Homo sapiens: one gene and its partners. Changing the gene in region 1 together with any one later gene gives a genetic interaction. Each region holds a gene or a part of one and is shown in the gene's direction. Other genes may lie near its edges.

Region 1 (7,952 bases):
TGGAGTGTAGTGGCACGATTTCAGCTCACTGCAACCTCCGCCTCCCAGGTTCAAGAGATTCTCCTGCCTCAGCCTCCTGAGTAGCTGGGACTACAGGTGCGCATCACTGGCTAATTTTTGTATTTTTAGTAGAGATGGGGTTTCACTGTTAGCTAAGCTGGTCTCGAATTCCTGACCTCAAATGATCCACCCGCCTCGGTCTCCCAAAGTGCTGGGATTATAGGCCTGAGCCACCATGCCCAGCCAGACTTTTTTGTTTTATGTAGGGACAGGGTCTTGCTATGTTGCCTAGTCTGGTCTTGAACTTGCACCCTCAAACTGTCCTCCTACCTCAACCTCCCAAAGTGTTGGGATTACAGGAGTGAGCCACTGCACCTGGCCAGATTTGCCTACTTTAGTTATTTCCTATAAAGAGCCAGGCACAGTGGCTCACACCTGTAATCCCAGCACTTTGGGAGGCCAAGGTGGGCCAATCACTTGAGGTCAGGAGTTCGAGACCAGCTTCACCAACATGGTGAAACACTTTCTCTACTAAAAATGAAAAAATTAGCTGGGCTTGGTGGCAGGCGCCTGTAATCCCAGCTACTCGGGAGGCTGAGGCAAGAGAATCACTTGAACCCGGAAGGCAGAGGTTGCAGTTGATGGACACTTGAGTTGTTTCTACTCTTTGGCTATTATAAATAATCCTGCTGTGAACAGTTTTGTACAAGGTTTTGTGTGGATATGTGTTTTCATTTCTCTTGGGTAGACTTAGGAGTGGGATTGCTGGTTTACTTGGTAACTCTACATTTAACATTTTTAGGAACCACCAAACTTTTCTGAAGTGGCTGTACCGTTTTTCATTTCCACCAGCAAGGCACTAGGATTCCAGTTTATCCACATCCTTACTAACACTTAGTATTATCTCTCTTTTTGATTTTGCCAGTAGGTCTGAACTGCTATTTCACTGGTTTTTTTGGTTGTTTTTTTGTTGTTATTGTTGAGGTGGAGTCTCGCTCTGTTGCCCAGGCTGGAATGCAGTGGCTCGATCTCCGCTCACTGCAGGCTCCGCCTCCCAGGTTCATGCCATTCTTCTGTGTCAGCCTCCTGAGTAGCTGGGACTACAGGTGCCCGCCACCACACCCGGCTAATTTTTTTTTTTTTTTTTTTGTATTTTTAGTAGAGACGGGGTTTCACCGTGTTAGCCAGGATGGTCTTGATCTCCTGACCTCGTGATCTGCCCGCTTCGGCTTCCCAAATTGCTGGGATTACAGGCGTGAGCCACCACGCCCAGCCCTTTTTTTTTTCTTTTTTTTTTTAAAGAGAGTCTCACTCCATCACCCAGGCTGGAGTGCAACGGTGCCATCTCAGCTCGTTGCAGCCTCTGTCTCCTGGGTTCAAGTGATTCTCCTGCCTCAGCCTCCTGAGCAGCTGGGACTACAGGTGCGTGCCGCCACACCCTGCTAATTTTTGTATTTTTGATAGAGACAGGGTTTCAGCATGTTGGCCAGGCTGGTCTCGAACTCCTGACCTCAGATGATCTGCCCACCTTGGCCTCCCAAAATGCTGGGATTACAGGCATAAGCCACTGCTCCCAGCCTTCACTGCAGTTTTAATTTGCATTTCCTTCATGGCAGAGCTACATTTTGAAAGGTCCCTTTGGCCACAGCTTAAAGAATGGTTAGGGTAGAGGAAGAGACTAGAAATAGGGACACAAGCTGCAAGTATGGCTTGGACACATGGGGAAGAGAATTTTTAAAAAGAGCTTTGAAGCTGGAATTGACAGCTTTCCTGAGTAATGGGATGTGAGGGAACAAGAGAGTTGAGGTTGCCATTGTGATTTCTTGAATGAGCTATATGGGAATGAAATGAAGGCATCTTACCTGCATAGGCTGTCCAGGCAAAGGAGGGATTCCGGGGTGAGCAAGGTGCCCATGCGCCACCCGGGTGGAGCTGTTGTCTGTATTACCTCAGAGTAACCAGCAAGTGGCTTCCAGGTACGGATGCCACTCATGCGGAGCACATCGAGACCATCAAAGCCCGGATGTACGTGGGCCTCACCCCAGACAAGCGGTTCCTCCCTGGGCACCTGGGCATGGGACTTGTGGAAGGTAAGGGAGGACAGAGCTTGCAGTGGGTAGTGGGTGGTGTCGCCCAAGTCCCTGAGGGTCTCAGGTGGGCCCTCACTGAGCTCGACTCTCTCCCTGCAGGTTATGATTCCATGGGCTATGAAATGTCTAAGCCTGACCTCCGGGCTGAACTGGAAGCTGATCTGAAGCTGATCTGTGATGGCAAAAAGGACAAATTTGTGGTTCTAAGGCAGCAAGTGCAGAAATACAAGCAGGTTTTCATTGAAGCGGTGGCTAAAGCAAAGAAGTAAGTCCTTAAAAGAAATACAGAGGGGTCTCACTATGTTGCCCAGGCTGGTCTTGAACTCCTGGCCTCAAGAGATCTTCCCACCTCAGCCTCCCAAAGTGTGGGGATTACAGGCGTGAGCCACCGCATCTGGGCCAGTCAGAGTTTATAACCCTGCCAGATTCATCCTCACCAGTGGCCTCCTGGCCTGGAGGTTTTCCACATACCCCTTTTCTTTGGACTTTCTTCTCTGGGTTCTTTTACAACTCTCCATAGAGCTTTGTCAGTATAGAAACAGTAATCGGAACAGTCTCCTTCAGTTATTCTGAACTATTGGCTTTAGAAATACCATTCTCTTGATTTTAATTATCTTTTTTTTTTCTGCTTTAATTACATGACACATTAATTATCTTGAGTTAGGCAACAAAGTCTTTTAAATCAGTAAACCCAAGTGCTGGAGTGTGATCCATTTGTTTTCTGGAGCATTTAGAGGTGGATATTTAGCAAGCAGCATGTGTGTATTTTGTTAGAAATGATGTGTTTTCTACCTGTGATATTATGATTTATAATAAGATATATATATTTGGACTTCATTTTCTGATACCCTTGGAATTTTTTAAGTGCTGTGTCTGTTGTATACAAATGAGATGACTAGTGGCCAAGGGCTCCTGGGTAGCCTTGGGATCGGTCTGGTTGTCAGGGAACCAACCCTGTGATTAGAAGGTTGGGACTTTGAGTCCCACCCCTACCTCAGGAAGAGCAGAGGGGCTGGAGGTTGAGTTGATCACACGTGGCCAGTGATTTGTCAATCATGCCTAAGTAATAAATCCTCCATAAAATCCCCAAACAAGGGTCAGGCACGGTGGCTCACGCCTGTAATCCCAGCACTTTGGGAGGCCGAGGCGGGTAGATCACAAGGTCAGGAGTTCAAGACCAGCCTGGCCAACACAGTGAAACCCCTTTCTCTGCTAAAAAAAAAAAAAAAAAATACAAAAATTAGCCAGGCATGGTGGTGCGTACCTGTAGTCCCAGCTACCTGGGAGGCTGAGGCAGGAGAACTGCTTGAACCCGGAAGGTGGAGGTTGCAATGAGCCGAGATTGCCCCACTGCAGTCCAGCTTGGGCAACAGAGTGAGACTTCTTCAACAACAACAAAAACAAATCAAACAATTGGGTTTGGGGCACATCCAAATAGCTAAACAGGTAAAGACTCCTGGAGGGTGGGTGTTTGGGAGAGGGCATGGAAGCTACCCCTTCCCCACATCCCTTGCCCTGTGCATTGCTTCCATCTGGGTATTCACCTGGATCCTTTGTAATTAACGGGTAAGCATAAGTAAAGTGTTTCCCTGAGCTCTGTGAGCCACTCTATTGAGAATCAAACCAAGGAGGGGGTCTGAGGAACCCCAGTTTATAGCCAGTCAGTCAGAAGCACAGGTCACAGCCTGGGATTTGTGACTGACATCTGAGGGAATTTGGGGCAGCAGTCTTCTGGGACTGAGCCCTTAACCGTTAGATGGATCTCCAGGTGCATAGTGTCAGAATTGAATTGAATTAGAGGATGTCCAACTGGTGTGTGGCGGGAGAGTTGCTTGGTGTATGGGGAAAACTCCCATACATCTGGTGTCTGATGTGTGTTGTGAGACTGTAATAGAAGATAACAGTTTGTTATTTTCTGTTCTTTAGAGTACCCCATGCCAGTTGTGAAAAGGCAGGCATGAGCTAGTTTAGACTTAATACAGACAGACACTCCTGGAGTTTGTACATGGACCCTGTGCAGTTTTACTTTTTTTTTTTGAGATGGAGTTTCGCTCTTGTTGCCCAGGCTAGGGTGCAATGGCGTGATCTTGGCTCACCACAACCTCTGCCTCCTGGGTTCAAGCGATTCTCCTGCCTCAGCCTCCTGAGTAGCTTGGATTACAGGCATGCGCCACCATGCCTGGCTAATTTTGTATTTTTAGTAGAGACGGGGTTTCACCATGTTGGTCAGGCTGGTCTCGAAATTACAACCTCAGGTGATCCGCCCGCCTCGGCCTGGGATTACAGGCGTGAGCCACCACATTTGGCCCAGTTTTACTTTTTAATGTGGGCTGGTGACAAGCAGAAGCATCTGCCTGTATCTGGACTCTCCTCCCAAGAGTTGGTTCGGCACCAGGGCCCATGGTGAGCTCAGTCTTCTGTCTGCCGTCTGTTCTCTGCAGGAGGCCTGCGGCTCACTGACCAGCTGGTTCTCAAGGTCACGCCTGTTGTGTGCATGTAAGAGTGTTGTAGGTGCCTTTGCAGCGATTGCTGGCTGATGGGTGTCTGTCTTTGCCTTTTCTTCAGATTGGACGAGGCCTTGGCCCAGTACTTTGGGAATGGGACAGAGTTGGCCCAGCAAGAAGATATCTACCCAGCCATGCCAGAGCCCATCAGGAAGTGCCCACAGTGCAACAAGGACATGGTCCTTAAGACCAAGAAGAATGGCGGGTGAGTGCGCTGCCTTCTGCCCCCACCTCTGCTCCCCAGCACCTGCGGTGTCAGCCGTAGCTCGAAAGACCCTGCCATTTCACTCCATGGAATCTTTCAAGACAGGCCTGTTGTTGCCAACCTGCAGGCAAGGTGTTGGCCTAAAAGCATAGCAGGGTGGGATCAGGCCTTTGAGGTGTAAAGCACTATGGGAATTCAGAGCAGGTGAGAAACTGAATGATAGTGGGGTTTTTTTGTCCCCTGTGGATAGGACATCATATACCCAATGTGTAACACATGGAGGAGCATGAGCTTCAGATCTAGGTGGGTCTGGGTTCAAATGCCACTTATGCCGCATATAAGTGGTGTGGCCTGAAGCAAGTTACTTACCTGCTCTGAACCCCAATTTCTTCTTTTATAAAATGTCAGTACTTACAAGGCTGTGTTAAGGGTGAGGATTTGGTGAAAATGGTCAGGACTATATAGCACATTGCCTGATGTGTTGTAGATACTCAGCAGATACTACTTTTGTTCTCTCCTAGTTTTAGTTCTGAATGGGGCCTGAAAATCTCAACTCCCTTTTCGCTTTAAATATAGTAGATCTGAGTGGGCAATTTAGCTTCACATCAGGTTGTTGGAGCCAGTGGCTGGCCACTGGAGGAAGTTCACGGGGAAAGACGAGGTGGAGGGGTGGCAGCCATCATTCATCAGGTGCCGTCCCTCACTGGTGTAATGCAGGGTGGTGCTCTGTAAGCATTACCTCATCCCATTCTCCTAACTACCCTGCAAGGCAGGGATTTTTATGCAGCTTAGAGGGCTGAGGTGCTTGCTTGGAGTCAAGCAGCCGTGGTGGGCAGCAGAGTTTGAAACCGGGTTTTCACTGCCTTTTTCCATCCTGCCTGGCCCACCTGGGACTGCTGTGCTCCTTGCTGCTGAATAAGAAAGGAGGTTTCTCAACTCCTCACCTCCAGCCATCATTAACCTGGCTGGCCCAAGTGAAGAGAAGGCCACCCAGGCTCTCAGAAACAAGAGGTCTATGGGCCAGACCTGGAAGCAGGTGTCAGGGCTCGCGTCACTCACAGACAGAAGCCAGTGCCACTCTAGGCTTAGCCCAATGACTGGGCGTATATTTCAGCACTTAATAAATGCTGTCGATGGGTTTTCCTTGCTATCGGTAGGTTATTGGATTAGTACTCATTGGAATATAAGGAGAGAGAATAACTACTTTTGTTTTAGCTCTGAATTCTCCAATTCTCTGAATTGGAGAATTATTATTATTCTTTAGTTATTCGTTTGTTCTTCTGTTATTCTTTTGTAATGCTTCTCTGAGTTACTCCAGAAGGTCAGGAGATTATCTTGTGGGATTTGCCACTCCATGATTTATCTGTTAATTTCCATTTCTGAGATTGTAAATTTCTTATTTAAATGATTGGAGTTCGGGGCTTTTTTTTCCTTCATAGTGTACCCAGGCACACTCATGAGGAATTTGTAAATCACATGCATATTAGCTAGTCAAACCCTAACGTTTCATGACTGCAAGGTGTTGAAAAACATTGGCCAGGAGAGACCGGGATGGGATGGATGGGCAGTGGGTGGGGTGTAGATGTTGCAGGTGAGGCTTTGTCACAAACAGATGGGTTTCCATTCCTGGCTCCCATCCACACATGCATGCATGTCTCTGGGCAGGTTTCCAGGCCACACCAAGCCACTGTTTACTCACATGCAAACTGAGGGGGCCCCTGACACTGCCCAGACTTGGCACGAGGCAGAAAGGCAAGAATGTGTGAGTGCACAGCACAGAGCCCCTGGCGTCAGCTTGGTTGGTTGTTGGTTTTCTAAATAGAAAGCAGGGCCAGCAATAGCTGCTTTGTGCTTTTGGGATGTGAGAAGGCTCATTTTTCCCAATCAATTCAATATGAGTGCTTGTGTATCCAGTTAAGTGTCATCCAGAAAAGGGAATGTTGTCCTCGGGCAGCTGAGGAAAGGCTGCCTTAGCTGATGGCCAACAGCGGAGAGCATCTCCTGCACTCCTATCATCTGACATGGCACTTTGTCCCCAGGTTCTACCTCAGCTGCATGGGTTTCCCAGAGTGTCGCTCAGCTGTGTGGCTTCCTGACTCGGTGCTGGAGGCCAGCAGGGACAGCAGTGTGTGTCCAGTTTGTCAGCCACACCCTGTGTACAGGTGAGCTGGGCACCTGAGTCAGGTGCCTCCTCTGGAGTGTGTACACCATCTTTCCCTTGCTCCTGCCAGAACCCAGAGAGGAGTGTCGGGGATTCCACTCAGGCCCTGCAGGGGCGTAGCTGTGTTCTGCAGCAGCCAGTTCAGCAGGGCTGGTCCAGTTCTGTTGTGTTCCATGCTGTCACTGCTTTGGCAGGTATGACCCTGTTTGGAGTGGGCCATGGGCAAAGAACCATGAAGGGCTCTTTCCCTGCCCTCTCCAGATAGATGATTGCTACACCAGGCTTAGGAAATTATTCACATATTAAATACAACATCCAAGCTTGGGCTACGTAGCAAGACCCCATCTCTTTAAAAAAAAAAATTTTTATTTAAAAAAAAATTTTTTTTAAGACAGTCTCGCTGGGTTGCCCAGGCTGAAGTGCAGTGGCGCAGTCTTGACTCACTGCAACCTCCGCCTTCTGGGTTGAAGTGATTCTTCTGCCTCAGCGTCCTGAGTAGCTGGGATTACAGGCATGCACCACTATGCCTGACCACTTTTTGTATTTTTAGTAGAGACAGGGTTTCACCATGTTGGCCAGGCTGGTCTCGAACTCCTGGCCCCAAGTGATCCACCCACCTTGGCCTCCCAAAGTGCTGGGATTATAGATGTGAGCCACTGCACCTGGCCAAAAAAAATTTTAAATTAGCCAGATGTGGTGACATATGCCTATAGGCCAAGCTGGTCAGGAGGCTGAGGCAGGAGGATCGCTTGATCCTAGAGGTCTAGGCTGTAGTGAGCCATGATTTCACCACTGCTCTCCAGCCTGGAATGACAGAGCCAGACCCTGTCTCTAGAAATAAATGAATAGGCCGAGCCTGGTGGCTCAGGCCTGTAATCCCAGCATTTTGGGAGGCCGAGACAGGCGGATCACGAGGACAGGAGATCGAGACCATCCTGGCTAACATGGTGAGACACTGTCTCTACTAAAAATACAAAAAATGGCCAGGCGTG
Region 2 (5,168 bases), on another chromosome or scaffold:
TTGTCTCAGTCCTTTGGGGCTGCAGTAATAAAATACAATAGACTGACTGGCTTATAAACAATAGAAGAAGTTAATTTGTCACAGTTCTGGCAGCTAGAAGTCCGAGGTCAGGCCACTGGCCAATTCATTGGCTTGGTGGGGGCCCACTTTTTGGTTTGTAGATGGCCATCTTTTCTGTGTCCTCACATGGTAGAAGGGACAAGGGAGCTCTCTGGGGTCTCTTCGTAAGGACACTAATTCCGTTCATGAGAGCTTTGCCCTATGAACTAATCACCTTGCAAAGGCCGCATCTCCTAATACTATTACCCTAGGGGTTAGGATTTCACATAGCAGTGACCTTGACACTTTGAAAGCAGTGGTCAGGTATTTTGTAGAATGTCCCTCAATTCTGGTGTGTCTGACGTTTTCTCATTAGATTGAGACTTTTGAATTTTTGAGAAAACTATCACAGAAATAAAGGGCCCTTCTCATTGCATCATATCAGGGGTTCATGATAGCAACATGACTTTTACTGGTGATGTTAACCTTAATCACTTGGTTAAGCTGGTACTTGCCAGGTTTCTCCATGGTAAAATTATAATTTTTCCTCTTCTATACCCTGTTCATTAGAAATAGGTCACTAAACCCTGCCTGCATTCCAGGCACTGTATTTCAGTTTCTAGAGGGAGGAGTATCAAAAAGTTTTTGGGCTTACATTAAAATCACTGTAGTAATTAATAGCGCGCTACCTTGAGGCTAGGCAAACATCTTCTTTTTCCTTAAACTTTTTCCTACTATTTTTAGCATTCATCAGGGAATCTTATCTACAGCAATTACTTCCATGGTGTTTTAATAGTGATTTTCAGTTTTCTTTATTCATTCTACACTTGTTAGTTGAATTTTTCTGCAAGGAAGATTTGTTCTCTCTGTCCCATTTATTTATTTATTCAGTTATTTGGGTATATCAGTATGGACTGATGGTTATTTATTTTATTCTTCAGGTTATGATCCCATACTTTTGTTTATATTGTTGCTTAAATTCTTTCAGCTCTGGGAACCCAATTCATTTGGCTCTTGTGTCCTTTTAGGCATGCCACCATCCTTTTACTTTTCTGAAGTGTGTTCCGACTTCCTGGTACTTTAAGATGCTCCAAGCTCATTGTCTTGTATTGTTTCTGCCCCAGCCCTAGAAACAGCCATTTTTCAAGGAACTGTTGGAGAATTCTTATTGGAAAATGATATTTAGAAACTGAGATCTGGGTGCTAAGTATAATTTAATATATTTTTAAGTAGTAAGGAAGAAGTGTTTTTAATACACGTTCATTGTATAAGGGATTTTCCCAATCTAATACTTGCCTTTATGAATTTATGTTCTATATATACTGAAGTCTGAAGTCTGCCTCAGAAAGGTAGAGTTATAGATGAAACGTGATTGGCTACATGTTGATAATTATGTAAACTATTTGAATTCAGGTGACAGGTACATAAGTGTTTATTATACCATTCATCCTACTTCTTTCGTAAGTACTTTATATTTTGCATAGTAAACGTCAAAATATATAAATAATGTATCTTTTTAAATGACAGTATACTTTTATATATATCTGTGTGTGTGCATGCGTGTGTGTGTGTGTGTGTGTGTGTGTGTGTGTGTGTGTGTGTGTGTTTAGAGATTGTGCTTCACTCTGTCACCCAGGCTGGAGTGCAGTAGAGTGAGCATAGCTCACTGCAGCCTGGAAATGCTGAGCTCCAGGGATCCTCATGCCTTAGCTTCCTGAGCAAGTGGGACCATAGGCATGCACCGCCATGCCTGGCTAACTTTAAAAATGTTTTCAGAGACAGGGTATTGCTCTGTGTTGCCCAGGCTGGTCTTAAACTCCTGGCCTCAATTGATCCTCCTGCCTCAGCCTCTGAAAGTGCTGAGGTTATAGGCATGAGCCACTGCACCCAGCTTGATATTATGTTTTAAAAGTACAGGGTCAACAGTTGAGGAAAGAGCACTGAGTATATACTACCTGGCTAGGTCTCAGGTTTGCCAGTTGCTAAATATTTTGGCATTTATACAGTCTCTTTGAGGGCTTGGCTTTCCTATTTTTAAAGTGGTAATCTACCTCACAGAATTTTTCTAAACTTAATAAAGAGCTGTTTATGAAAGACTGTATGCACTGTATAATTGTAAGATATTCAATTATAAGATTTTATAAGAATATATAATTCAATAATTGATGTAATTTGATATAATTATAAGATATTCAACTACATTGAAGATACTACTGCTGTCTTCAAGTGCAGTTGTTAACTATACTTCTCTGTATTTTGCTGTCATTTATTAGCAGGCAGATATAATACGTAATACATAATATAATACATAATATATTATATAATACATAATATAATATAATACGTAATACATATATAATACATAATACATTCAGTATACTTAATGTGTATAATACAGTTCTGAGTATGTGTTAGAAACCAGGATGCTGCTTATTTGATTCTATAATAACTCACCTATGACATGCCACACATACATGTAACTGAGCTGGGTTTTGAGTAGTTAGTTGGAGAGTTTTTTAATTGAGAAGTTTAATTCAGAAGTTTGTTTTTGTTGCCTCTGATTTAACATTTTATATTTCTTTTGAAAAATTTCCAACAGAGCTCAAATGATACTTTTCCCACAGCAATGCACATTGCTGCTGCAATAGAAGTTCATGAAGTACTGTTACCAGGACTACAGAAGTTACATGATGCTCTTGATGCAAAATCCAAAGAGTTTGCACAGATCATCAAGATTGGACGTACTCATACTCAGGATGCTGTTCCACTTACTCTTGGGCAGGTATAGGAGTTTGACTAATTTGATTCAATTTAGAGCTTGGTACAAATGGCCAATGTGTCATCCTTGAAATCTGACTAGCTTAAAAGGCCAAATTTGTAACCGGAAACTTCAGTGACAGAGGTTGTTCTGTTCAACCAATCAGTAATTTTCATTGACATCCACTTAGAAGAAAAGCAGAGTATACTGGCTATAAGTCAGATTCAGTCAGACTGCTCGGGTTCAAATCTTAGCTTTGCTGTGTACAAGCTATGGGACCATAGGAAAGTCATTTAGCCTTTCTGTGCCTCAGTTTTCTGAGCTACAAAATGAGGAAAATAATTTCCCTTTCATAGGATAGTTGTGAAGCTCTAGTAAGTTGATTTATGTAGAGTGCTTAGAAGCATGCCTGGCACACAGTAAGTACCCATTCATGTTAGCTACCATCATCACCACCGTCATCGCTGTCATCTCCATCAGTATCATCATGGTTTTTCTTTTGTCTTTCTTACCTAAATTAGTAGGTTATTTAAAATTTAATCTCAAAGTGATTAAATAAGGTAGATCTTTTTAAGATGGATCTGGCCGCATGTGAAGGAGATACTACTCTCTTCTCCAAGATATTAGAAAGTATTTTCATGTTTCTTTTTCAATGCCTTAAGGAATATCTAATAGTATACATTGTGAAGGAAATGTAAGGAAATACAGGGAATGACTTTTGTCTTAGTAAACTCACACTCCAATTGGGGTAGCTTAATTTCCTTATGGAAGGAATGAGGAAAACTTGAAATGAGTAATTGAAAAACAAATGATGGGACTAAATTGAACTCACTGGATTGAGTTGCTTCTTAAGGCTGTGTCTCATTTCTCTTTGCATCATTAGTACTTAGGACCATGCATAATTTCTAAGGAGGAACAGTATGTATGTTTTGAAACTTTTGAATATTTCTCAAGTTTCTAATTTTAACCTTTTTTTGGTGTTGAAAACTACAATACTAAATACCATTTGGGCCATGACTCAGCCTCCTGTGTAAAATCATCATTCTTCCTGTTAAGACAGAAAATTACATTTTTCTGTTTGACTTTATCAGAAGCATTTATACTTGCTTTTATTGGGATTGTCTTTTGAGTTCGTGCATTGTTCCCTGTCAAAGTGTATTTTATAAGTGAATCTATCTAGTGTGTTTGTGTGTGTGTGTATACATACAGTCATGTGTTGCTTAGCAATGGGGGTATGTTCTGAAAAATGCATCCTTAGGCAATTTCATAGTTATGTGAACATCACAGAGTATACTCACACAAACCTAGATGGTATAGCCTTCTATACACCTAGGCTATATGGCATAGCCTTTTCCTCCTAGGCTACAAATCTGTGCAGCATGTTACTGCATTGGATACAATAGGCAATCGTAACACAATGGTAAGTATTTGTGTATCTAAACATATCTAAATGTAGAAAAGGTACAGTAAAAATACGGTTTTATAATCTTAGGGTCCCACTGTTTATGTGATCTTTCGTTGGCTGAAACATCATTATGTGGTGCGTGACTGTATATGAGTGATGTTATATCAGATGCATCAGGTCTACCTATAATGAGTTATATCTTTTGAAATGTTTTCTTTAGAACAGTATGGCATCCTGTCACTTATGGTTTTTTAGTGTTTTCAGGCAGGAAAAAAGGATAGATTTAGTGTAACCATGTATCTTGGTTTGTCCAGTTAACTCCCAGTGTATGCCTTTTGTTTCTGCATGACTATTAATAGAGCCCTTTCTGTGTTCAAAACATAAATTCTGTGGTTGCTTTAATTAAGGCATGTCAAAATTTGGAACCAGTGTTGACATTGGCACATTGATGCTATGATCTGACTCTACCGTTACCTCCTATTCTTTTTGGAAGGTCCTTCAATGCAAACTGTTACCTTCCTGTGCTATTCAGTGAGTCATTAGCTTCCCAAGTCTCTGTAGAATGTCTTCATATTTCCTGGTAGGTTTATACACTGAAATTGTATGGAGAATATTTCTATGTTTGCATTTTTTTGGGGGAGATGAGTTACTATTTTTTCTTACACCAAAGTTGTCTGAGGCATCCCAAAAAATAAGAAATCACTTCAGTTTCTTTAGTAGACTGCAAGTAAACCAATAATTTAGTGTAGTAAAGTTGTTCTTTTTAAAGTGTATTTCCTGTGCTGTTTTTCTTTGCTTCCTATTAAAAGACTAGATTATAATAAATAGGCTGCATGTTATCAGTGGCATTGTCGTACCTTATGGTTCTATAAACCCTCATCCTTCCCTATACTTTGCTCATCATAAGATTTGAAGTAGTATAAATAAAACTTGATTAGCTTGTAATTTAGTATTCTGAAAGGTATT
Region 3 (8,554 bases), on another chromosome or scaffold:
CTAACTCTCCTCTCCCTCTTGGACTCATTATGTTTATTGTTGGTATACTTGATGTGCCACAGTTCTTAGACTCTGTTCATTTTTCTTTATTCTTCTTTCTTTATGTTTCTCAGGGACAGTTTTGGTTGCTGTTTTTCCTTTATAAGGGCCATACTTTGTTTCCTTACATGCTTTGTAATTTTTTGTTGAAAACTGGACATATTGTGGCAATATGTGGCAACTCTAGAAAGTCAGATTTTCCCCTCTTGCCAGTGTTTGTTACCGCTTGATGTAGTTGTTTGTTTTTTTTAGTGGTGTTTGTTTTTTTTTTTTTTTGAGACGGAGCTTTGCTCTTGTTGCCCAGGCTGGAGTGCAGTGGCGTGATCTTGGCTCACTGCAGCCTCCACCTCCTGGCTTCAAGTGAGTCTCCTGCCTCAGCCTTCCAAGTATCTGGGACTACAGGCACCTGCCACTGTGCCTGGCTTTTTGTATTTTTATTAGAGATGGGGTTTCATCATGTTGGCCAGGCTGGTCTCGAACTCCTGACCTCAGGTGGCTGGGATTACAGGTGTGAGGCACCATGCCCGGCCCTAGTGATTTTTCTTATATAATTTTTTAAAGTTGGTATTGTTTGTCATGCATGGCTGTACAATTTCTGTCCCATTAGTTTTAGTGGTCAGCTAATGATTGGACAGAGATTTCCTTAAATTCTGTATACCAAAAACAAAAAATCTGCAGAGTGTTCTGTATTTGTGTTGGGGCACACCTGCAATACTCAACCAAGAAGTTTACAACGTTGCTTCAGCCTTCGCTATCTGCTTGTGCAAAATGCAAAGTTAGGGCACATGTAGAGCTTAGGGGCCTTCTCAGCTCTTTCCTAAGCATATGTACTGCCCTGGTCATGGGTGTGTCTTTTTAGATTCCCAGGTATATGTTGGACCTTTTCAGAGTCCTATTCCCCAGAAACATCTCACTCCCTAACCTCTTCTTCCAAACTTCTTGGGTAGTCTGTTTGCACCAGTTGCTTTCATTGCTTCAGGCAACAGAGACTAAAGCATTTTCCTGTAAGTGTTTTCAGCAAACGCTACTCAGGAGTAGCTTTAGCACAAGGTGAGTTAGAGTTACAAAGGTGAAATAAAGACAAGCCTCTTTTTTTTTTTTTTTTTTTGAGATGGAGTCTCGCACTGTTGCCCAGTCTGGAGTGCAATGGTGTGATCTCAGCCCACTGCAACCTCTGCATCCCGGGTTCAAGCGATTCTCCTGCCTCAGCCTCCCAAGTAGCTGGGATTACAGGCGCCTGCCACCACACCCTACTAATTTTTGTATTTTTAGTACAGACAGGGTTTCACCATGTTGGTCAGGCTGGTCTTGAACTCCTGACCTCAGGTGATCCACCCACCTCGGCCTCCCCAAGTGTTGGGATTACAGGCATGAGCCACTGTGCCTGGCCAGGACAAGCCTTTTGATCAGGTCATTTTAGAGGGTCAGATCGGCTTAAGATAGTTTGTAAATGAGGTTTATTCTGCTCCCACCTGGACCTATGCCTTAAATATGAACTGTTATTTTCAAGGCTGCTACTGAGTGAGGAGCAGGGGATAAACAGGGTAAGTTAAAATGCCAGAAAGCTCACTGTTCTTACTGCGTTTCACTTGTTTTGAATAAGTTGCTGCAAGCTTTTAGCTAGTTTACAATGTTCTGAAAAAGTTGATTCTGACAGGCTTTGGCAGGTTTTTAAAATTGCTTTTGTGGAGTAATGGACTTCTGGAGTTCTTTTCTCTGCCATTTTCACTGACATCACTCCTTGATTCACTCTCTCTCAGTTCTTGAAGTATTTTCTTTGTCTTTGAAGTTTAAGAGCTTAATTCAGATGTGTTGAGTTGAATATCTTGTATTAATTTTCCCAGAACATAGTGGGTTATTTCAGTGCTGCACAGTCGTGGTATGGTTGTGTGTTTTCATAGTTTCTTGAAGTAAGAATTATTACAAAAACTTTTGTAATTTGGGCTGTGTTTTTTGGGCAAATCTGCTGATCTCGCTCGGGCTTAACTCATCCAGCTGTAGTCATTTGATGTCTTTACTGTGGCTGGTGGTCTAAAACATCCTTACTCCCATATTTGGAGTCTTGGCACTGTCTGTTAGCTGAGTCTTTTCTTTCTGCATCATTCAGCTAGGCTGAGCGTCTTTCCATGCCATAGGAACGTTCTAAAAGACTGAAAGTGGAAGTTGAAGGCCTCTCAAGACCTTTGCCATCTTCTAATTGCCGCTCTAGCTTTTCAGCCACAAGTCAGGCCTTTTTCTTTCTCACATTTTAATAATCTTGTTTTTCCTCCCATTATGTTTTCATCTTTGATTGTTTCTTCTTTCAGTGGTATTTTGGTAAAAGACAGTAAGTTTTGTTGCTATGAGTTCATATACACTCAATCCCTAGGAGCTGCACCCCTGTTGATAGATTGGGTTGGGGACACACATACCCACTGGGAGAAGAGAGACTCTGGAATGAGTGAGATTATCAGCATACTTAATATTACTCCTGTTATGGAGGTAGCCAGCAAATTTTTTTTAATTGATACAATAATTGTAATGTATTCATGGGGTATGTAGTGATGTTTTGATTCATATAATGTATAATGATCAGATCAGGATAATTAGCATATTCATAATTTCAAACATTGTGGGAATGGGAATGTTCAGTGATGGGAATGTTCAGTATCCTTCTAGCAATTTGAAACTCTATTATTGTTAAGTATAGTCATCCTACAGTGGTCTAGAACTTACTCCTATCTAGCTGTAATTTTGTATTCTTTCATGAATCTCTATCTTTCCCTTCCCTCTCCCCTTCCTGGACTCTAGTATCCTCTGTTCTGCCTTCTACTTCTATGAAATTAACAGTTTTTTTGTTTCCACATATGAGTGAGAACATGTGATGTTTAATTTTCTGTTCCTGGCTTATTTCACTTTACATAATGTCCTCCAGTTCCACCCATGTTGCTGCAAATGACAGGATTTCATTCCTTTATATGGCTGAGTAGTATTTCATTGTGTATATATATCATATTATCCTCATCTGTTTGCTTGGCTTTTTGTTTTGTTTTTTTGAGACAGGGTCTCGCTCTGTCGCCCATGCTAGAGTGCAGTGGCGCAATCATAGCTCACTGCAGCTTCAACCTCCTGGGCTCAAGTGACCCTTCTGCCTCAGCCCCCTGAGTAGCTGGGCCTGTAGGCATGCACCACCATGCCCGCTAATTTTTTGGGAATTTTAGTAGAGATGAGGTATCGATATGTTGCCCAGCCTGGTCTGAAGCGATCCTTCTGCTTTGGCCTCCCAAAGTGCTGGATTACAGGCGTGAGCCACAGTGCCTGGCCTACACTCATCTGTTGTTGGATACCTAGGTTGATTCCATATCTTGGCTATTGTGAATAATGCTGTAGGGTTGCAAATTTCTCTTCCATATAATTTCCTTTCCTTTGGATCAGTAGTGGGATTGCTGGAACATATAGGTAGTTTTATTTGTAGTTTTTTGAGAAACTTCTATTCTGTTCTTCATAGTGGGTTTACTAGTTTATTATCTACTCACCCATGTGGCTTAACCTTATTTTTGTTGCCTTAGGTTACTATATCAACAACTGATAGGAGAAACAATAAACTCATTTTCAAAGTGAATTTGTTAGAAATGGATGATAAAATATTGGTTGACTTCCGGCTTTCTAAGGTATTTTTATGTTTTATTGTATTCTTTCTATGGAAATATTTCTATATGAATTTTTTTAATGGCATTATGTTTGTATATATGTGGCATTTGTAAATAGGTTACTTGCTTTTTTCGTTTAATATTATGAGCATGTGTTTTCGTTATCTATTTTTCCCGAACATTGTTTTTTTCAAATGACATTTTCCTTATTATAAAAGTTTTTGCCAGGCGTGGTGGCTCATGCCTGTAATCCCAGCACTTTGGGAGTCCGAGACGGGTGGATCTCGAGGTCAGGAGTTTGAGACCAGCCTGGCCAACATAGTGAAACCCCATCTTTACTAAAAATACAAAAAATTAGCCAGGCGTGGTGGCGGGTGCCTGTAATCCCAGCTACTTGGGAGGCTGAAGCAGGAGAATCATTTGAACCTGGGAGGCGGAGGTTGCAGTGAGCCGAGATGACGCCACTGCACTCCAGTCTGGGTGACAATACAAGAGACTCTGTCTCAAAAAAAAGAAATTTCTGCTTTTGTGAAAAATGTAGATAAGCAAAAAATGAGAAAATAAAAATAATTCTAAATTTTCAGTGATCACATTAATATTTCGAAGCATTTTAATATTTTTCTTAATTTATGTCTTTTAATAAAAATTATGATTTGTTACAAATATTTCATTATAATTTAATGAACCTTTACCAGTTATAATAATTCTGTGATTGCTATTTTATGCATAGATTTTTTTGTTCATATTTCTGATGATTTCTTTAGAAATCATTGATTCTAAGATGATAGTATTACAGCCCTTGATATATAAAACCAAAATAACATTTTTCTCTATTTTCTGAGAGATTGTATGTGGCTCTAAAGAGGGTTGGAGGGGTAGCTGCTGTGTTAGAGCATTTGCCGCAGTACTCTTTGTATTAGAGATTTGCTGCAATACTGTTTTTCAGATGCTTGCTACAGAATTAAATTAAGATCGTAGTATAATGAAATTCTTCTCATAACTAAATCTATTGATTTTGGTCAGTAGTGTTATGACAACAAGACTTCAGTTTAGTTGTATAGTTTATTGTTAGTTTCCAAACCCTCACTGCCTATGGAATGTAATGACTTAGGTCCAGATATACCAACACCTGAAACAGATAGGATGCCATGTTTATCTGCTCTCTGAGCTCAGTGCAGTAGGAACAGTGATGGGCATGAAACCACATCAGAATTATTTGTGTAACAATTTTCTCTTCCAGGATATTTGGTCTTCATAAACAGACCGAAAAGAAAATGGTAGCTAGACATACCTAAAGATGTTTGTCTCTTGTTACCACTACAAAGAGATTGATTTTAGGACAGAATTTTGTTTTTGTTTTTGTTTTGACATAATTTTTTAATACTATTTCTAATATAGGGTGATGGATTGGAGTTCAAGAGACACTTCCTGAAGATTAAAGGGAAGCTGATTGATATTGTGAGCAGCCAGAAGATTTGGCTTCCTGCCACATGATCGGACCATCGGCTCTGGGGAATCCTGGTGAATATAGTGCTGCTATGTTGACATTATTCTTCCTAGAGAAGATTATCCTGTCCTGCAAACTGCAAATAGTAGTTCCTGAAGTGTTCACTTCCCTGTTTATCCAAACATCTTCCAATTTATTTTGTTTGTTCGGCATACAAATAATACCTATATCTTAATTGTAAGCAAAACTTTGGGGAAAGGATGAATAGAATTCATTTGATTATTTCTTCATGTGTGTTTAGTATCTGAATTTGAAACTCATCTGGTGGAAACCAAGTTTCAGGGGACATGAGTTTTCCAGCTTTTATACACACGTATCTCATTTTTATCAAAACATTTTGTTTAATTCAAAAAGTACATATTCCATGTTGATTTAATTCTAAGATGAACCAATAAAGACATAATTCTTGTGACTTTTGGACAGTAGATTTATCAGTCTGTGAAGCGAAGCCAGCTTCAAAACATATCCCCAAGATTTGTACTTATATTTTCAAAAGGGCCTGGCCAGTTATATAAACCTGTTTTTGAATTATAATGATTAATTAAAATTGCAAGTAGGTGTTTTTTCCAGTGTAGTTAGTAAAATACTTGTATTTTACAGTGTTGCATAAACTCTAGTGCTTAACTAACTTTACTCTAAAAATTACTGTTGAACATCTTAAATATTTTTCTATATTTTCTACTTTCATAGCCATATTTTAACCTTTTCAACTTACTGGTGACCAAGCTTTTAGGTGATAAAGAATAAAAGAGGGAAGGGAAGAGTAAGGAAGCTATAAGAAAAATAGATCTGATTCTTTGTTCCTTTACCTGTTAGACTTACAAAAAGTTTGTTTTTCTAATAAAATTTGTATCAACTTTGGGGCATATTAGGTTGAGGCCTTGGCTCCTGCCTGTAGTCCCAGCTACTTAGGAGGCTGAGAGAGGAGGATCGCGTGAACCTGGAAGTTTGAGGCTGTAGTGAGCTATGATTGCACCAGTGCACTCCAGCTTGGATGACAGAGTAAGACCCTACCTCTAATAAAAATTTTTAAAATTGTAAAACATTATAAAATTAATCAGTTATTTTAATCTGAAGCCAAGAACATGTAGAATGTTATGATTAGAGTTTATCACATATTAATGTATACTGGCAAATTGTGTTACTGGAGTATACCCATAGGAGGAATAAATTCAAACCTGTTTTATTTATTTGAACCTATTTACGGTATGCTTAAGAATTGAATCAGTATAAATTCTCAAATATGGGAGAAATTTTGTTCTTGAGAATTATCTGAGTCATTAATATTTTTCAAAAACAGCTCTCACTGACTTGAACCTCTTCTGTAAGCTCTAACCTTTTACCTGCTTTACATTTCCACTTGAATGTCTAGTAGGCATCTCTTGACCAAAAACAGCTTTTGATTCCTGTTCTCCAACCTGTTCCTCTCCTAGTTTTCTCCATCTCAGAAATGTTACTTCCTCTGCAAAGTCTTTCCCTGACTTATCTAAAATAATAACCTCCTCTGTTTGCTGTGGGAATTTGTATAGAATGGTGGGAAAATTTCAAGTTTCATATTTGGATTAGCTCTGACATTTATTTATCTGAACACTGGTAATTGCCTCAGTAAAGACACTGATAATAAGTACCTTTTAGAGTTATTTTAATCTTTAATGCTTTAATGTGTAGGAAGAGTATAGTGTCCTGTTTTGCACAGAAAGGCATTCTGTAAATAATAAGTTGCCTTAATTTTCCTGTAATGTTCATTATATTGTTGTGGGAAGGTATTTACTCCTATTATTAAAAATAAAAATGTGTAAAATTTACTACCTGAAGATAACAGTTCAAATTTTGATGGAAAAATCAACCTATGCTTGTGTGTGTGTGTGTGTGTGTGTGTGTGTGTAATGTGTACAGTGTGTGTGGTTGTTGAGATAAGCATAATTATATAAAAATATGTGTGTGTGTGTTTAATGTGTACAGTGTGTGTGGTTGTTGAGATAAGCATAATTATATAAAAATACATAAAATATGTACACTTCAATGTGCAGTTGTAAAGTTAACATTCACTTAACCACAACTCAATTGTAGAAAGATCATTTACAGACCCTTAAGAACTTCCTATATGCAGTCTCCCAATCACAACCCACTTCTTTCCCCCAGAAATAATCACAAAATAGACTTTGGTGATAATCTTTTCCTTCGTGTGTTTTAGAGTGTTCTCAGCTATTTATGCAAATAATATCATTTAGTTTATGTATTTTTAATTAATATGGTTTTTATTAACGAACTTTATATACATTTTGCTGTATTTTTCATGTGTTGATTTTTTATAGCCATGCTTTTGTGCATATTGAATTCATTAATTTTAATTTTTATATAGGATGTATTTATGAACATCCCACTAACTATTCTGCTGCTAATTGATATTTGGATTGTGTACAGTTCGATGCTATTATAAAATTCTTCTAAGGACATTCTTGTACATGTTCATTTGTTTTGCTAGGTCCTAGAGTCTAAGGTATATATCCAGAAGAGGAATAGCTGGATATTAGGATAGAATAATGACAAACTGTTTTCTAAAGTGATTGTACAGATTAGTGTTTCCATAGGAGAAAAGTGTACAGTTACTGGAAAAACAGTTTGGAATGATCTAAAGCATAAGAATGTTCATAGCAACAGAATGTATTTCTAGTATTCCAAATTTTCACCTACAGTTGGTGTGGTCAGTATAAGTTGTTGTTTTTGTTTTTGTTAATGTTTTTTTTTCCTTTGAGACAGGGCCTCACTTTGCTGCCCAGGCTGGAGAGCAGTGGTACAAACATGACTCACTGCAGCCTTAGCCTTGCAGGCTCAAGCAATCCTCCTGCCTCAGCCTCCCAAGTAACTGGGACCACAGGCACATGCCACCACACCTGGCTAACTTTTGTATTTTTTGTAGAGACAGGGTCTCACCATGTTGCCCAGTCTGGTCTAGTCTGTTTTAACAAGTTGTTGCTGTGTAATGATATATGTGTGGTGTTAATTTGCTTGTTCCTAAGTTTAAATGAGGTAGAGCATTTTATGACATGCCTGTTCTAGTCTTTTGCTTATTTTTCTAATTGCCTTTTCTTTTTCTTAATAATTTCAGTTCTTCATATGTTCAGCATACTAGTCCTTTGTCAATTTACATGTATTGAATATATATACTCTCCCATTCTGCGGCTTATTGTTCCATTCTTCATGAACATTTGTAATTTTAATGTCCTATTTAGACCTTTCCTCTGTCTATTGTTTTATATTTTGTATTAAAGGAGTCATTCATTACTCCAAGATCATGAAGATTTTCTTGTATGTAATCATGTAATCTTCTTAAAAGCTTCATGGCTTTTGCTTTTTTTTTTTTTTTTTTTTTTTTTTA
Region 4 (8,554 bases), on another chromosome or scaffold:
TTTTGAAGATATAATTGAAATAATTAAATGTCTGCTTTTAATATTTGTTGCTTTTGCTTACAAGTATACACTTAAAATTAAGTATGAAATGTATTTATAAATAACTACTTTTTCCCATTTCTTATAGTTCTTAAAACAATCTTCTTAAACTTTTCTTATAGTTCTTAAAACAATTTTTTAAAATATCACTGTGTCTGTCATCACTGGAGCTGCTTTTTGAGTTACCTAACACCGTTGCTGGATCACATTAAGCTGTGTGAAACTTAACTTCTATAACTCTAACCTCCCTCCCAACTAGAAATAGTTAAGGTTTCTGGCTTATGTATCTTTCAAACAATAACTTGTTGTCTAAAGCAACTAAAAGCCAGGTGTGGTGGTGCATGCCTGTAGTCCCAGCACTTTGGGAGGCTGAGCTCAAGTGGGAGGATCACTTGAGCTCAGGAGTTCAAGACCAACCTGGGCAACATAGGGAAACTTTGTTAAAACAAAAAATAAAAAAAATTAGTCAGGCGTGGTAGTGTGCACCTATACTCCCAGCTGGCTACTCAAGGGGCTGAGGTGGGAGGATCACTTGGGCCCAGGAGGTTGAGGCTGCAGTAAGCCATGATCACACCAATGCATCTATCCTGGGTGATAGAGCAAAGACTCTGTCTCAGGGAAAAAAAAAAAATGTGTGTGTGTGTGTGTGTGTGTGTGTGATTATAGCAATTGAGAAAGTATCCCGTCACTTAGTGGGCTTTGTATTAAACCATAAGGCTTCTGCTTTCCTGAGTAAGAAATATATATTTATGTTACATATTTAAAAAAATAAAATTAGAGTGGGACTACTTGGGAAAATAAGGGGAAAAAAATAGCACCAGCTCCGTCTTTAAGGTTATTTTAACTCAGATCTTTAAAAACTAAATTAGGTAGTTCTTACAGTGTTTTGTTGGATATATTCATTTTAGTGTAACAAAGATTCAGATAGTTGGCTTAGATTTATAGATTCTGTTTTTGGGAAATGGTTGTGCATATAACTGATAGCTGTAATTGTTACTGTGGACCTTGGGACCCTTGGTTGCATAAGATTTAACTCATTTTTCATAAGTATTTGCCAGATTGAAAGAGTAGGATTCTAAAATTCCAAAATTCTATGAATTCGAGATTGTTGTCTCCTAATTACTTTGTGTTATTTGCTCTTTCCTGTGCGCAGACCACTCATTTTTTTTTTTTTTTTTTTTGAGTGCAGTGGCGTGATCTCGGCTCACTGCAACCTCCGCCTCCTGGGTTCAAGGGATTCTCCTGCCTCAGCCTCCCAAGTAGCTAGAATTACAGGCACACGCCACCATGCCTGGCTAATTTTTGTATTTTTAGTAGAGACGGGGGTTCACCACGTTAGCCAGGTTGGTCTTGATTTCCTGACCTCGCGATCCGCCCGCCTCGACCTCCCAAAGTGTTGGGATTACAGGCGTGAGCCACTGCGTCCGGCTGAGCAGACCACTCTGAAAACAGATTCCTGATCCTTAGTTCCTATTTTAGTGTGAGTAGATGTAATCTTTTTCAGTGGATTGTGATGTGTACATAACTCAGTAGTGACCAAATGATGATGTAAGTTATTAGACTTAGAAACAGTAACTTAAAATTAACTCAAATCTTTTAACTGTTTATGATATTCCATATAGACTGGTTTATTTTTATTTTTTATTTTTTTTTGAGACAGAGTCTTGCTCTGTCACCCAGGCTGGAGTGCAGTGGCAGGATCTTGGCTTGCCACAGCCTTACCCTCCCGGGCTCAAGTTGTCTTCCTCCTTCAGCCTCCTGAGTAGCTGGGAGTATAGCTGGGACTGCAGGCGCTTGCCACCATGCCTGGCTAACTTTTATATTTTTGTAGAGTTGGAGTTTTTCCATGTTGCTCAGGCTGGTCTCGAACTCCTGGGCTCCAGCAATCCACCCACTTTGGCCTCCCAGAGTGTTAGGATTACAGGCATGAACCACCATGCCTGGCCTAGGCTGGTTTAAAAGAATACAAGCACAAAAAAACTCTGCACTCAAATTTTTAAACTCATAAGGAGAAACTAAAATTTAGCTTGACCTTTTTAAAATAAAAGGTTAATTTTTAAGTGATTAAATACAGTTTATCTAAATCATTGAGGAGTCAGTGCAGAATGTTTGGTGCAGTAAATTATAATAAGTATTCAATATAAGGTCATTGGCCAAAGATACTAAAGGTTCTTGTTGTTACTTCATTGTTACACATATAAAGTGACAAAGGATTTAAACTGAAATCTGTTAGCTACCAATTTTTCTTGCACTGTTTGTTTGTGTTTCAGACTGGGTCTCGCCTCAGTCTCCTGAGTAGCTGGGATTATAGGCTTCTGCCATCACGCCCGGCTAATTTTTTTTTTTTTTTTTTTTTTGAGACAGTGTCTCACTCTGTCACCCAGGCTGGAGTACAGTGGCGTGATCTCGGCTTACTGCAACCTCTGCCGCCCAGGTTCAAGCGATTCTCTTGCCTCAGCCTCCCGAGTAGCAGGGACTGCAGGTGCCTGTCACCGCGCCTAGCTAATTTTTGTAGTTTTAGTAGAGATGGGGTTTTACCATCTTGCTCAGGCTGGTCTTGAACTCCCGACCTCATGATCCACCCGTCTCGACCTCCCAAAGTGCTGGGATTACAGGTGTGAGCCACTGCGCCCTGCCTAATTTTTGTGTTTTTAGTAGAGATGGAGTTTGACCATGTTGGCCAGGCTGGTCTTGAACTCATGACCTCAAGGGATGCGCCCGCCTTGGCCTCCCGCAGTGCTGGGATTACAGGTGTGGGCCACTGTGCCTGGTCATTGCTTTATTTCTAATGATTATTTTCTGTATATCTTCCTGGAATTTCAAAAAGAAATTTATTTATTTATTTATTTATTTATTTATTTATTTAGAGACGGAATCTCTCTATGTTGCCCAGGCCGGAGTGCAGTGGTGCAGTCTCGGCTCACTGAAACGCCTGTCTCCGCCTCCTGGGTTCCAGTGATTCTCCTGCCTCAGCTTCCTGAGCAGCTGGGATTACAAGCATGCTTCACCACACCCAGCTAATTTTTGTCTTTTTAGTAGAGACGGGGTGTTGCCATGTTGGCCAGGCTGGTCTTTAACTCCTGACCTCAGGTGATCCACCCACCTCAGCCTCCCAAAGTGCTGGGATTCTAGGTGTGAGCCACCGCGCCCAGCCAAGAAAATTATTAAAAGTAACATGTTTAATACATTTTCAGGATTTTTATTAGGTTCTTTTAGCCTAGTCATTTTGTTCAAATGTGATTTAAAATATATTGTATCAAGATATATTGGAATAAAATTCAGACATTACATGTTAATATCAAGTTGTAAGAAAATTATTAAAAGTAACTAACATGTTTAATAAATTTTCAGGATTTTTATTAGGTTCTTTTAGCCTAGTCATTTTTTACAAATGTGATTTAAAATACGTTTTTTCAAGATATGTTGGAATAAAATTCAGACATTACATGTTAATATTTATTAAGTTGTGTATCATTGTTATTCATTTCATATCTCATTTAAAATTTTGGTTTTAGACTGAAAATATTCCTGTGGTTAGAAGACCTGATCGAAAAGATCTACTTGGATATCTCAATGGTGAAGCGTGTGAGTACTTTTTAAATTGTTCCCAGTCTTAAACAGACATTGTTTCTTTTTTCCCCTATGAAATAATGATTAGAGGGAAGAGAATTTGTATTTCCACCAAAAAATTAACCTACCTTCATTTTTGTCCATGTGCTCACCTTTTTCTTATACAGTGGATGCACTGTCTTTGCCCTTATGGCCAGTCACCCCTTCCTTGTGTGTGGATTCCATCTCCTTTCACAGTCTCAAAGACTTTGTCTTCGTAAATTGTTGTTTCTCTGACATCATCAGTTTTCTACTTTCTTCTGGATCATTCCCTTTTAGAATACCTACAGTAAGATTTCATGTTTAAAAAATGTTTTTGATCCCACATTCCTACTGTCTACTGCTTCATTTATCTCCTCCCTGATACTGTAAAATATTCTGCAAGAGTTCGTGTGGTATCATTGCTTCTTTTTTACCTTTGTTTCTTTCTTGAAGCCACTCTAGTCTGGCCTTCATCCTTACCATCCCACTAAAATCACTCCTTGTAAGGTCAAAACTGATTTAAGGATTGCTACATCCTTTGGTCTCTTGTACCATACTTGACCTCTCAACAGCATTTGATACTGTTGACCACTCATTTTTGAAAGCCTTTCTTCATTTGGCATTTGGAACACCAGCCTCTTGGTTCTCTTTCTACTCGTTGTTCACCTCTCAGTTTATTTTGGTTACTTCTGTACCTGACCTCTAATTCTTGAAGTTTCCAAGACTTGATCTTTTTTTTTATCTTTTCTTTTAACCTGTATTCTCTAGGTGATCTCTTTCAGTTTTATGGCTCAGATATCATATATATGCTGATGAAATTTCAAGTGTTTTTTTCAGCATTGATTTCTTTCAGGGCACCAGATTTATAAATTTACTGTCAACATGTTTCCTTGAATGTTGAATAGGCATCTGAAATTTAACACTGAAAATGGAATGCCTGATTCCCTCTTTCCCTTCTGCCCTCACACAGAACAAAAACAAGTCTGTTGTTTTCTCAGTGTTCCCACTTTAGTAAGGGGTAGTGAGACGCTCTTCCTGCAGTTGCTTAGGCCAGAACTTTGGTGACATCTTTGTCACATCTCACATCCATTCTATCAACAAGTTGTTTTTTTCTCTTTTTAAAAGTATGACAACTTCTTACCATTCTACCTGCCCTATTTCATCCTTGCTTTTTAGATTATTGTATAGCTTCCTCACAGGTCCCCACTCTTTATTTCCTATAGTGTAGTCTTAGCAATAGAGTGTCCTGCTTTTGAAAAAGTATATAAACTTGATTGTGTCACTCACCTGTGGCTTCCCATCACTCTTAGAATAAAACTCATACTTGTTACCCTGGCAGTCATCTTGCCTCTGCCTAAATCTCTGTGACTCCATCTTCTACCATTCTTCCTTTGCTCATAACAGTCAGTCTTTTTGGTCTTTTAGCTATGCTAATCTTAGCACCTTTGCACTTTCTCTTTCTATCTTGAGTTGTCTTTCTCTACATTATCACATGGCTCACTTGCTTACTATTTCATTTAGATCTGTGCTCAAGTGTTTTTCCAAATGTTGTTCCATCAGAGAAGACTTCTCTGACCACTCTTATCGAAAATATAGTATTCCTTTCCTCCTTCTGTGGTTTTTATATAGTGCCATCCTGATTTATTTTTCACCAGATCTCATACATTGACCTGAAATTATATATCTGTTTATGTACATAGTGTCTGTCTTTCCCATTAGAAGGTAAATCCTAAGGGGACAGACAGTTGTTTGTCTTGTTAAATACCCAGCATTTACAATAGTGGTGCATGGTAGGTTCTTAACTGAATAAATGAGTAATTATTAATTTACTCTCTTACAGAGTACAAGTACATTGATATAATACAACTATTGGGTCTTACTTTGCTGAGTGTGACGTGTAGTACCTTTAAGTCATTAACAGCTGTCTTGTCATGCATGGCTTTAAGCAGTAAGATTGATTTCCACAGAGAATCTTGTGTATAATGGAAAGATCATCATTAGGAATGCTTTCTTCCTATGCTGTCCTCATTCAATAAGGACTTATTACGTGCTTATTCTTAAAAGGCATTATGCTGGGTGTTGTGCAAAATGCCAAATCCCTGTCTTAAACATGTAAACATGTTTACTGTCATGCAAGGGAGACTGGATACACAAAAGTTTAGAACCCAGCAGTATTAAAGAGGGAGTCTCAATTCTGTGAAGAGGATGGAGTTGGGGAGGATAGAAGAAACTTTTTTTTTTCTTTCAGAGATGGGGTCTCGCTACATTGTTCAGGCTGGTCTTGAACTCTTGGGCTCAAGCAGTCCTCCTCCCTTGGCCTCCCAAAGTGTTGGGATTGCAGGCATGAGCCACTGTGCCCAGCCATTTTTTTTTTTTTTAATCAAAGCAAATTTGATTCTTTGGAGCAGTGTTTCTCTAACTTTTTAAGTGATGAGAATCATATGGTTTGAAAATAGTGGTTTTTTTTGTTTGTTTGTTTTTGGCTTCAGAAGATGTGATATAAGGTCTAAGATTCTCTATTCTTAAGCATCGCAGGTGAGCCTGATAAATAGGCTAGTTTTGGGGAAGCACTTTAGAGCAAATGATTTTTCTTTTTAGAATCAAAAGTAGAGTTGCCCTTTATCCATCTATGTCATTTCCTGTAGATTTTTTTTTTTTTTTTTTTTTTTGAGAAGGAATCTTGCTCTGTCGCCCCAGGCTGGAGTGCAGTGGCGCGATCTTGGCTCACTGCAAGCTCCGCCTCCCGGGTGCATGCCATTCTTCTGCCTCAGCCTCCTGAGTAGCTGGGACTACAGGCGCCTGCCACCACGCCTGGCTAACTTTTTGTATTTTTAGTAGAGACCGGGTTTCACTGTGTTAGCCAGGATGGTATCTATCTCCTGACCTTGTGATCTGCCTGCCTCGGCCTCCCAAAGTGCTGGGATTACAGGTGTGAGCCACCGCGCCTGGCAGTTTTTATAGGACAGAGTTAGTCACTAAGCGTATTGCTTTGCCACTTTTTAAAAACTGTTAATTTAATAGTTTAATGAAAAGGTTGAGCAAATATTAAGACCGTATTCTTAGGAAGACATAATAGCTAAAGATGTTGGTTCTTAATTTATACATTTAACATGGTCTCAATAAGAATCTCTAGTTTTTCTTGAGGTAGGAATAGAACTAGACAAGGTGATTCTAAAGTTCATTGGCAAAAGTAAGCATCCTAAAAATTTGTAGAAGAGCATTGAGAAAAGGCTAGTCATTCTGGAGAACTTAAAACCCTGATAATTTGAAACAACTAAATGACTAGATACACTAATAAAAAAACTTTATCTGTTAGGTTAGAAATCTATATGTGAATTTAACATATGATTAAAGAGACATGTCAAGTCAATGGGAGGAAGGTGGGATTATTCAGTTACAAGCTGATAAAAGTAGTAAAGTTCTGTATTATAAAAAACAAAAGACATGACAAACTGGGAAAATATGTTAATATTTCAACTCATCACAGATAAAGGGCTAATCTCACTAATATACGAAGGGTCCTGGAACTTTATGCATAAAAGACCAAACACTCTATGGATTATGTCATAAAATTCACAGAAAAGGTGATAAAATCATGAAAAATGCTTAATATCATTTATAATAAGAGAATTGCAAATTTAAACTATACGGAGATAGGATTTTTTTTTTTTTAACCTGATAGAAAAAAATCTGTAAGTTTGATAATATGCTCTGGTGAAGCAATGAGAAAACAGATATTCTACTATATTGTTGGTTATAATGTTAATCAGTGCACCCCTACACCCCCATTGAAGAATTGGCAGCAGTCTAACATTACAAATTTAACATAGAAATCCTGTGTCTGGAACTTTATCCTAGAGGTATATTTCGTTTAGCTTTTTTACCAGTTGTGAATAACTAAAAATTACATGTGTAGGGTGAATGCTAACTTTAAAAAAACTTGCCATTATATATAATATCTATATGTACATTTATATATTTATGAAAACTTGTGACTTTATATTAATATATTATTGTGCCATTGTTCGTAACAACAGAAGACTAAAATTGAACAGCTCATCAACAGGGACCTAGTTAAATAAATTGTAGTTAGGCCATACAGTAGAGTACTCAGTAGCTATAAAAAAATGGTTAAAGAGGGCCGGGCACAGTGGCTCACACCTGTAATCCCAGCACTTTGGGAGGCCGAGGCGGGCGGATCACGAGGTCAGGAGATCGAGACCATTCTGGCTAACATGGTGAAACCCCGTCTCTACTAAAAATACAAAAAAATTAGCCGGGCGTGGTGGCATGTGCCTGTAGTCCCAGCTACTCGGGAGGCTGAGGCAGGAAAATGGCGTGAACCCAGGAGGTGGAGCTTGCAGTAAGCCAGGATCGCCACTGCACTCCAGCCTGGGTGACAGAGCGAGACTCCGTCTCAAAAAAAAAGTAAAGGAAATGCTCTACTTACTGATATGGAGGGTTATGGGAGATAAGTTGTTAGGTAAAAAAGAAAACAGGGTTCAGAACAGTATGTTTAGTATGTCACCTTTTGTATTAAAAAGGGTAAAAATAATTTTGTATTTCTCATATCTACAGAAAGAAACTCTAGAAGGATATATAAGAGACTAGTTGGCTGCATAGGGTGGTGGGAACTAGGTGAATGGGGACAGGTATACCCCTTTTTGTTGAGCCATTCAAAAATTAAGTAATTTAATTTTAAAAATAATTTAGTTTTTTACCAGTTGTGAATAACTAAAAATTGCATGTTTAGGGTGAATGCTAACTTAAAAAAAATCTTGTCCATATATATGTGTGTGTATGTGTGTGTGTATATATATATTTATGTGTTTACTTACACCTTTTTAGGTGTCTGTGTTATGACATTGGAGCATATACTTTGAAGCAACTAATTTCAGTCAGATCATCTCAGTAATTTGTAAGC

What was found.
Region 2: changes in TOP3A (region 1) and FH are lethal when combined (synthetic lethality), as found in Homo sapiens cells (one large-scale study listed by BioGRID).
Region 3: changes in TOP3A (region 1) and CHEK1 are lethal when combined (synthetic lethality), as found in Homo sapiens cells (one large-scale study listed by BioGRID).
Region 4: changes in TOP3A (region 1) and CDC73 are lethal when combined (synthetic lethality), as found in Homo sapiens cells (one large-scale study listed by BioGRID).

The regions. Positions count from the first base shown.
Region 1 is NC_000017.11:18,279,545-18,287,496, reverse strand, and holds part of TOP3A (DNA topoisomerase 3-alpha), read left to right. Parts: intron 1-1,976; coding exon 1,977-2,090; intron 2,091-2,189; coding exon 2,190-2,355; intron 2,356-4,655; coding exon 4,656-4,799; intron 4,800-6,838; coding exon 6,839-6,961; intron 6,962-7,952. UniProt on the Homo sapiens protein: Releases the supercoiling and torsional tension of DNA introduced during the DNA replication and transcription by transiently cleaving and rejoining one strand of the DNA duplex.
Region 2 is NC_000001.11:241,506,256-241,511,423, reverse strand, and holds part of FH (fumarate hydratase, mitochondrial), read left to right. Parts: intron 1-2,638; coding exon 2,639-2,821; intron 2,822-5,168. UniProt on the Homo sapiens protein: Catalyzes the reversible stereospecific interconversion of fumarate to L-malate. Experiments in other species have demonstrated that specific isoforms of this protein act in defined pathways and favor one direction over the other.
Region 3 is NC_000011.10:125,650,159-125,658,712, forward strand, and holds the end of CHEK1 (serine/threonine-protein kinase Chk1), read left to right. Parts: intron 1-3,587; coding exon 3,588-3,689; intron 3,690-5,066; coding exon 5,067-5,162; 3' UTR 5,163-6,989; downstream 6,990-8,554. UniProt on the Homo sapiens protein: Serine/threonine-protein kinase which is required for checkpoint-mediated cell cycle arrest and activation of DNA repair in response to the presence of DNA damage or unreplicated DNA.
Region 4 is NC_000001.11:193,126,620-193,135,173, forward strand, and holds part of CDC73 (parafibromin), read left to right. Parts: intron 1-3,554; coding exon 3,555-3,624; intron 3,625-8,554.